2 linked regions of the Homo sapiens genome follow. The protein of the gene in region 1 purifies or fractionates together with the protein of each later gene. This does not show direct contact. Each region holds a gene or a part of one and is shown in the gene's direction. Other genes may lie near its edges.

Region 1 (3,500 bases):
ACTGTTCTGAACCCATTTTCTGAACTCTGTTCTCAACAGGTATATTTGAATGTTTTCATTGAACACATGACTAACTCTTGTAATCCCCCTCCCCTTTTTGATGTTCAATAGATGTGAAGACTACTAGCCTAAGTGAAAATATATTCCACTATTGGTGAAAGTAATGTTTAACACTTAATGAGCACTTATATGCTGTTACATGCTAGGCACTAGTCCAAATGCTTTTCATGTGTTTATTCTCTCATGTACTTCTCAGAGTAATACTGAGTGGTATAGAAATTACTGCCACCTTACAGGTGACAGAACTGAGGCAGAGAGGGGTTACAAAATTTGCTAAAGTTCACACAGTTGTAAGTAGGGGAACAGGGATTCGGACTCAGGGAATCTGACATCAGAATTTGCAGTAATGGCCCAGGGCTGTACTGTCTCCTAGATGCATTTCTCATAATTTTGTCAATGAATTCCGTGTATGGTTGGTGAATGGGGCATTCTTTATTTGTCCTCATTTCCCAGTAATAGTTGACAAGTGTCCCCCAGTGCTGTGTATGAACTGATCAAGCAGCAGCCTCTCTATAATTTGCTTAGAGATGCTTTACCTTTTCTCTAGAAATGTTGCAACCCTAGAGGCAGAGGCCCGCACAAATGTCTTTACTGAGTGCCGGACACTTTTTACTTTGCCTTCAGGGCTTTTTGTTTCTGAGGGTGAAGTTGTACAGAGAATAGGTTTTAGAAGTTGCCTGGGGTGACAGAAATCCATTATGACTGTCAAACTCTTAGCTGTAATTATACCGTATGGTCAGAAGTATTGGTATGTAATGAGTGTAGTTAATTTCCCGCAGGTTGCTCTATGTGATATCTTCTTTATTTTAGAGAAAAGGATAAAAAGATCAGATTTATTAACACTGAGTTTTTCCTGAGTCTTGGGCAGAGCTGGCATTTATTTTGGGTGACTGGTTAGTGGATATATTGCCTCCAAGATCACTTCGACTATGCACTTCAGGGCCCCTAAGACCCAATCCTCACCCTCTGTTCCCCACTTCCTCCACCCGTACCCTGAAGCTGGTGGCTTAAGCTTAGTCATTTACCAGCATTTCATAAATGTACTAGTTTTTTCCTCAGGCAGGATTGGGTTCTGGAATTGTATTCATCAGGTTACGAAGATGTTATATTCTTGCCTTTTGTAATCTTCCAATTTGGTTTGTAAGACAAGTCATTCATCAAACGATAAGCAGTGTGAAATTTTTATAGGTATAATGAGCTATCGCAAGACTGAGGTAAGATTTGGACCCGGGGCAGAGTAGTGAAGAAGGTGGAATTGATTTTGGATGAGATTGAATCCATGATGGGAAATAAAATGAGATTATCCTCCAGATATTTGGAAATTGGGGATTGGAGTTCAGATGTGAGGATATAGGGATTGGGGAGCCATCAATTTATAGGTGATGATAATTGAAACAGTAACATTTAACCAATTTTTGCAAAGGAAAAACTATAACGGATTGAACATTGTGGTGGCAGGAATCAAAGAACAGTCCTTGATAACCTAGGGAAACAGAGAATGTGTGTGTTGGCCAAGTGAACCACGTAAAAATAAGGAAAAACGTAGAACACTTAAACAGATTTTCAGTAAGATAATTCTTATTATAGCTACTGTGTGCTGTGATAGGAGAATACACCTTTTCAAGATTGAAGAAAATTGACTAAATACTAGGCAACAAACAAAGACTCAGATTCCAAGGAGTAGAAATAAAGTAGGATCTGTCACAATGCAGTACAACTAGAAATTAATAATAAAGATCAGTAAATTAAAGTTCCTTCCACCTGGAAAATTTAAAACTCTTAAGCAACTGTCTTAGTACATTTTGTGCTGCTATAAAAGAATACCTGAGGCTGGGTAATTTATAAAGAAAAGAGGTTTATTTGGCTCACAGTTTTCTGTAGGCTGTACAAGAAGCATGGCGTCAGCGTCTGCTTCTGGTGAGGGCTTCAAGAAACTACTCATGGTTGAAGGAGAGCAGACTTCACATGGCAAGAGAGGAAGAAAGAGAGTAGGAAGGTGCCAGGCTCTTTTAAACAGCCACATTGTTAGTGAACTAAGAGTGAGAAATCACTTATTATTTTGAGGTGGCATCAAGCCATTCATGAGCGATCTACCCACATGATGCAGACACCTCCGACTAGGCCCCACCTCCATCACTGGGGCTCAGATTTCTCTGTCTTTATTTATTTATTTATTTTTTTGAGACAGAGTTTCGCTCTTGTTTGAATTTGGAAGTTTCCTTCTTTTTTTTTTTTGAGACGGAGTCTCGCTGTCACCTAGGCTGGAGTGCAGTGGTGCGATCTTGGCTTCCTGCAGTCTCCGCCCCCTGCGGTTCATGCCATTCTCCTGCCTCAGCCTCCCGAGTAGCTGGGACTACAGGTGCCTGCCACCTTGTCCGGCTGATTTTTTGTATTTTTAGTAGAGACAGGGTTTCACCATGTTAGCCAGGATGGTCTCAATCTCCTGACCTTGTGATCTGCCCGCCTTGGCCTCCCAACCTTCTTTTTCTATACTCTGGAAATTTTCCTAGCATTTGAATTATTTAATTTTTAAAAGTTTAGAAGAATTTTCTGTGGAACTGTCTGAGGCTGGTGCTTTTCTTGGGTAGGTGGCTAGTCTTTTTTTGATAATTTCAATTTTCTCTATGGAAATTGGTTTATTTTTGCTTAAATCTTACTAGTTTTTTTCTATTTTTAACTCATTACTTTCTAATTGGTATTTATTAATACCTTCATTCTTTTAAATTTATCCTATTGTTTTTCTAACTTTGAATCAGAGGCTTTATTATTCTCATTTTTCTAAATTAATACATGTTTTTACAGCCATGAGCTCTCTTATGAGCATCACTTTAGGTTATACCATAAATTCTGATATACACTTGTCCTTGGTATTCATGGGGGATTGGTTCCAGGACCCCCACTCAGATACCAAAATCCATGGATGCTCAAATTCATTATATAAAATGGTGTAGCATTTACATATACTCCACACATATCCTACCATATATTTTATTTCTAGATCAATTATAATACCTAATACAAAGTAAATGCTACATAAATAGTTGTTATACTAAATTGTTTAGGGAATGACAAAAAAACTGAATATGTACAGACAAAACCATCCTTTTTTTTTCTCTCAAATATTTTCAATCCTTGGTTGGTTGAATCCTCAGATGCAGAACCTATGAATATGAAGGTCTGTATAATGTTTTCTAGAAAAAATATGCAATTTTAATTTGTTTTTACCCCTTTGACGCAAGGTTGCTGATATAGTTTGGATATTTGTCCCCTCCAAATCTCGTGTTGAAATCCAGTCCCCATGCTGGGCACAGTGGTTCACGGCTGTAATCCCAGCACTTTGGGAGGCAAAGGCGGGTGATACCTGAGGTCAGGAGTTTGAGACCAGCCTGTCCAACATAGCAAAACCCCATCTCTACTAAAAAAAAAATATACAAAAGTTA
Region 2 (3,500 bases), on another chromosome or scaffold:
CAAACGTGTCAATATTTATAGATCTTTTTGCAGATACCTGTCAGCAGTAGAAGATAGGGGTGAGCATTTGGGGTAGGTGTGTATGTGAATACTGTGTTGTGGAACTGGAAAAGGAAGTAGAGCAGGGAGGAGGTAGAGAAGGTGGAGACGGTCTCACTCTTCAGTTTATAGGCTTTTATTACTGGGAATTGTTCTCTCAGTGTCTGTTCGTGTCTCTCCCCATCTATTAATAAATGTTTTCCCGGTGTCCACATGTGTGGGGTGCACTCATTTAACTGGCCCCCCAAATGAAAGAGAGACCCTGGAGGTTCTAACCACACCATCTACTTTAAATCTGTCTCCTTATTTTCAGCTTTAAGCCTCTTGCTACTCAGAACCACCATGACTTGAACCAGTGAAGGGGGTTCTGCAGGCAGGAATTCTCTCACTTCTTACTGGCATCCTCCTTGGCAAACATTTTAGGTCATAGTTTTCCCCTCCTATGCCAAATCGATTACCACTCTGCTTATTGTCTTCAAAACATTAGATTAAATCTTTCATCCATGCCTGTCACTTTGTACTCATGTTCCTATGATTTTGCATCTTTTAAAAATTCCTTTACTGTTGTTTTACTAGAGTCTTAGAGAAAGGAGGCAGAACATGGGTGGACAATTAGTTATGTTAAACCAGAAGTCCTGATATTTGAGAAAACAAATCAGACAAATTATATTTTTCCCTGAGTTTTTTTTATTTTTAAATTTTTATGTGAAATTAACTTTGTTTTTCTTTTAAAAGAGGTGTGTTTCAGGATAGCTTTTCTATTTAACTCTGCTTCTGTTGTTTTCAAGTAGTATAGTACTCACAGATAAGGCAACTTTCTTTTTCAGTTCTTGTCGACTTTTACCTGGGCCTTCTCCTCTTTCCTTTTCCTTGGCGTCCCTCTGCTGCTCACTTCTAGTTCCACTCTGCCAGTTTCTCCTTACTGTGGGCCATTCTCCTGAAAGTGGTTCTTGGCTCAGTTTGACAAACACCCAGGTGCTACATTGCTTCAGCCCTTTAAATCTTAACACACACTGCAGCTATTGGATTGGGCGAAACTGCTTTTTAGCGTTGCTTTCATCTTGTCCTGTTGTACTTTGAATGCATGCTTCTTGGCTGCGCTCAGGTTTTCCTATGATCAGAGTGGGTCACACTTCCCTTGCTTCCCTTTGCTTTCTCCTGCACACAAGCTAAGACCATGGAGGTCTTATAGCTGTTATTGCTTTGTCTTTACCCTCTTGTATCTTGAGGTCCATGAAGATATCTTGTCACCTGGTTTTATGTAAATGTTCGTGGGTTTTTGGTTTTGTTCTCCAGTCACTTTTTTATGTTTATGTGTACAATTCAGAAAAATTAAAAAACTTTGCCACCATCTTCCTAGAATCCTCACTTAACAACTTTATGGAAAAATTTTAAAATATATATTCTGTGGCTATTAATCCTGTATTCTTAGAATGCTTGCTTTTGCCTTTTGAGGCTAGGGCACCTCTGTTCCTTTAGTCTCAAATGGAATAGTTTCAGTTTCAATAGCACTTTGCCTCTTTGAAGAACTTTTATAAAATTCTTATGTTTGATTTATTTTCACTATAATTTGCCCTCGATACCTAAATGTTATTTTTTTTCTACTTTTCTTATTGAATAGCATTTATTTATTGGGTATATAACCAATATTATTTGAATAGATCATCTTCTTAAAGTGGGAGTACCAGAACCAAAACTAATTTAGCTAATATGTATTAAACTTACACAGATAGAATGCTCTATTAGGTGCGGGTGATACAGCAATGTAATATTTATAGATATTGGCCATATTTTTTTATTTATGAATTCAATTAGGTAGTAAATGATAGGGAAAAGGAAAATTATTTGGATATACTCTTTAAGATTAAACAAGTGTATGAGCAAGGCACTGTTAGGTTCTAAAGATAGAATGGTTTACAAGACACATTTCTTGTATTTCTTAGTGTGTTGTGAGGGGACAGCTGAGTAAAACAGGCAATTACCATGTTTATTTATTTATTGGAAATGCATCATAAGGGTAAATGCAGGAGCAGCCAGCTTTTTACAGGAAGGAAAAGGGAGGAAAAAGGATATGGTTCATAGTTTGGAGAATAAAGCTAGCTTCTTAGAATCCCCTTTTGATTTTTTTTCAATGCAACTGCAAATTTTTTTAAACTTGGATAATTTACTTTATTCTCTCCAGAATAATCTCATATTTTATTCTTTCATTTGGCCCACTGGAGAGCAGTTTTGCATTTTGTTTTTCTTGATACAGTTCCAGCTGAGGTTGAACCAAGTGACTGCATCAGAAATTTAGATTAAGAAATTGGAAAGGAGCTGAGGAAAAAATTACAGCATAATTTTTTTTTTTTTTTTTTTTTTTGCTTCATATAGTAAGTTTACCTCATATACTTGGGGAAAGAAAACATCTGTGTGTATGTGTGTGTATTGAGAAGTTAACTGTAAATTTACACAGTATCTAAAATGGAACTAGGCTAAAGTGAATATTTTTCTTTCTAGATCCCATACAGTGGTCCACAGACCAAGTCCTGCATTGGGTGGTTTGGGTAATGAAGGAATTCAGCATGACCGATATAGACCTCACCACACTCAACATTTCGGGGAGAGAATTATGTAGTCTCAACCAAGAAGATTTTTTTCAGCGGGTTCCTCGGGGAGAAATTCTCTGGAGTCATCTGGAACTTCTCCGAAAATGTATGAAATTACAGTTATTTCTTTACATTGTAATTTAAGCTTAATTTTATTTCCTTGTAACTTTGTTTTCATCTTAGTTGTTTATTGATAATGATAAGTAATAAGCAATAATAATTAACATTTATTTACTGTATAATGCTATGCTGAAAGCTCTATATGTTCTTTAATTCCTATAGTAACACCATAAGTCATTACTTTGCTTATTTTTTAGATAGGAAAGTGAGGCTTTGAGAGCCCCATAAAGTCACAGCTAGGAAGTGGCAGAGCCAGGATTCAAGCCCAGGCTAACATTAGAATCCAAGTTCTTAAATCAGATGCTGTGCCCTACACTTAGCCCTCTTCATATATTCCATTTGTTGCCTTCTGTTTGATCAGCTCTTACATTTACTGCTCATCTAGAAACGGAAGAGATCATTTGTTTACAGGTGGCTTCCTACCCATTCTCTTCATTATTGATGAGATTAAATCTTTTTTGAAGTCTTTACTATTAATTGAATAGAGTCTTAAGAGGGAAGGAAGTGTATGCAGCCACCTTTTGGCATTGGAAGCCATTGGTTATAAGTTTTTCCACTTATAACTTGTAAGGCTTCAGACATTATTATGATTAAGTGACCATGTAAAGAAATTGGATGAGGCAGGCAGATCACTTGAGGTTAGAAGTTCGAGACCAGCCTGGCCAACGTGGTGAAACCCCATCTCCACTAAAAATACAAAAAATAGGCGGACAAGGTGGTGCGTGTCTGTAGTCCTACCTACTTGGGAGGTTG

Evidence for each region.
Region 2: the proteins of ZNF200 (region 1) and GABPA purify together in Homo sapiens (affinity purification with mass spectrometry; one large-scale study listed by BioGRID and IntAct). This does not show direct contact.

The regions. Positions count from the first base shown.
Region 1 is NC_000016.10:3,228,659-3,232,158, reverse strand, and holds part of ZNF200 (zinc finger protein 200), read left to right. Parts: intron 1-3,500. UniProt on the Homo sapiens protein: Localizes protein arginine N-methyltransferase PRMT3 to the nucleus.
Region 2 is NC_000021.9:25,755,472-25,758,971, forward strand, and holds part of GABPA (GA-binding protein alpha chain), read left to right. Parts: intron 1-2,538; coding exon 2,539-2,733; intron 2,734-3,500.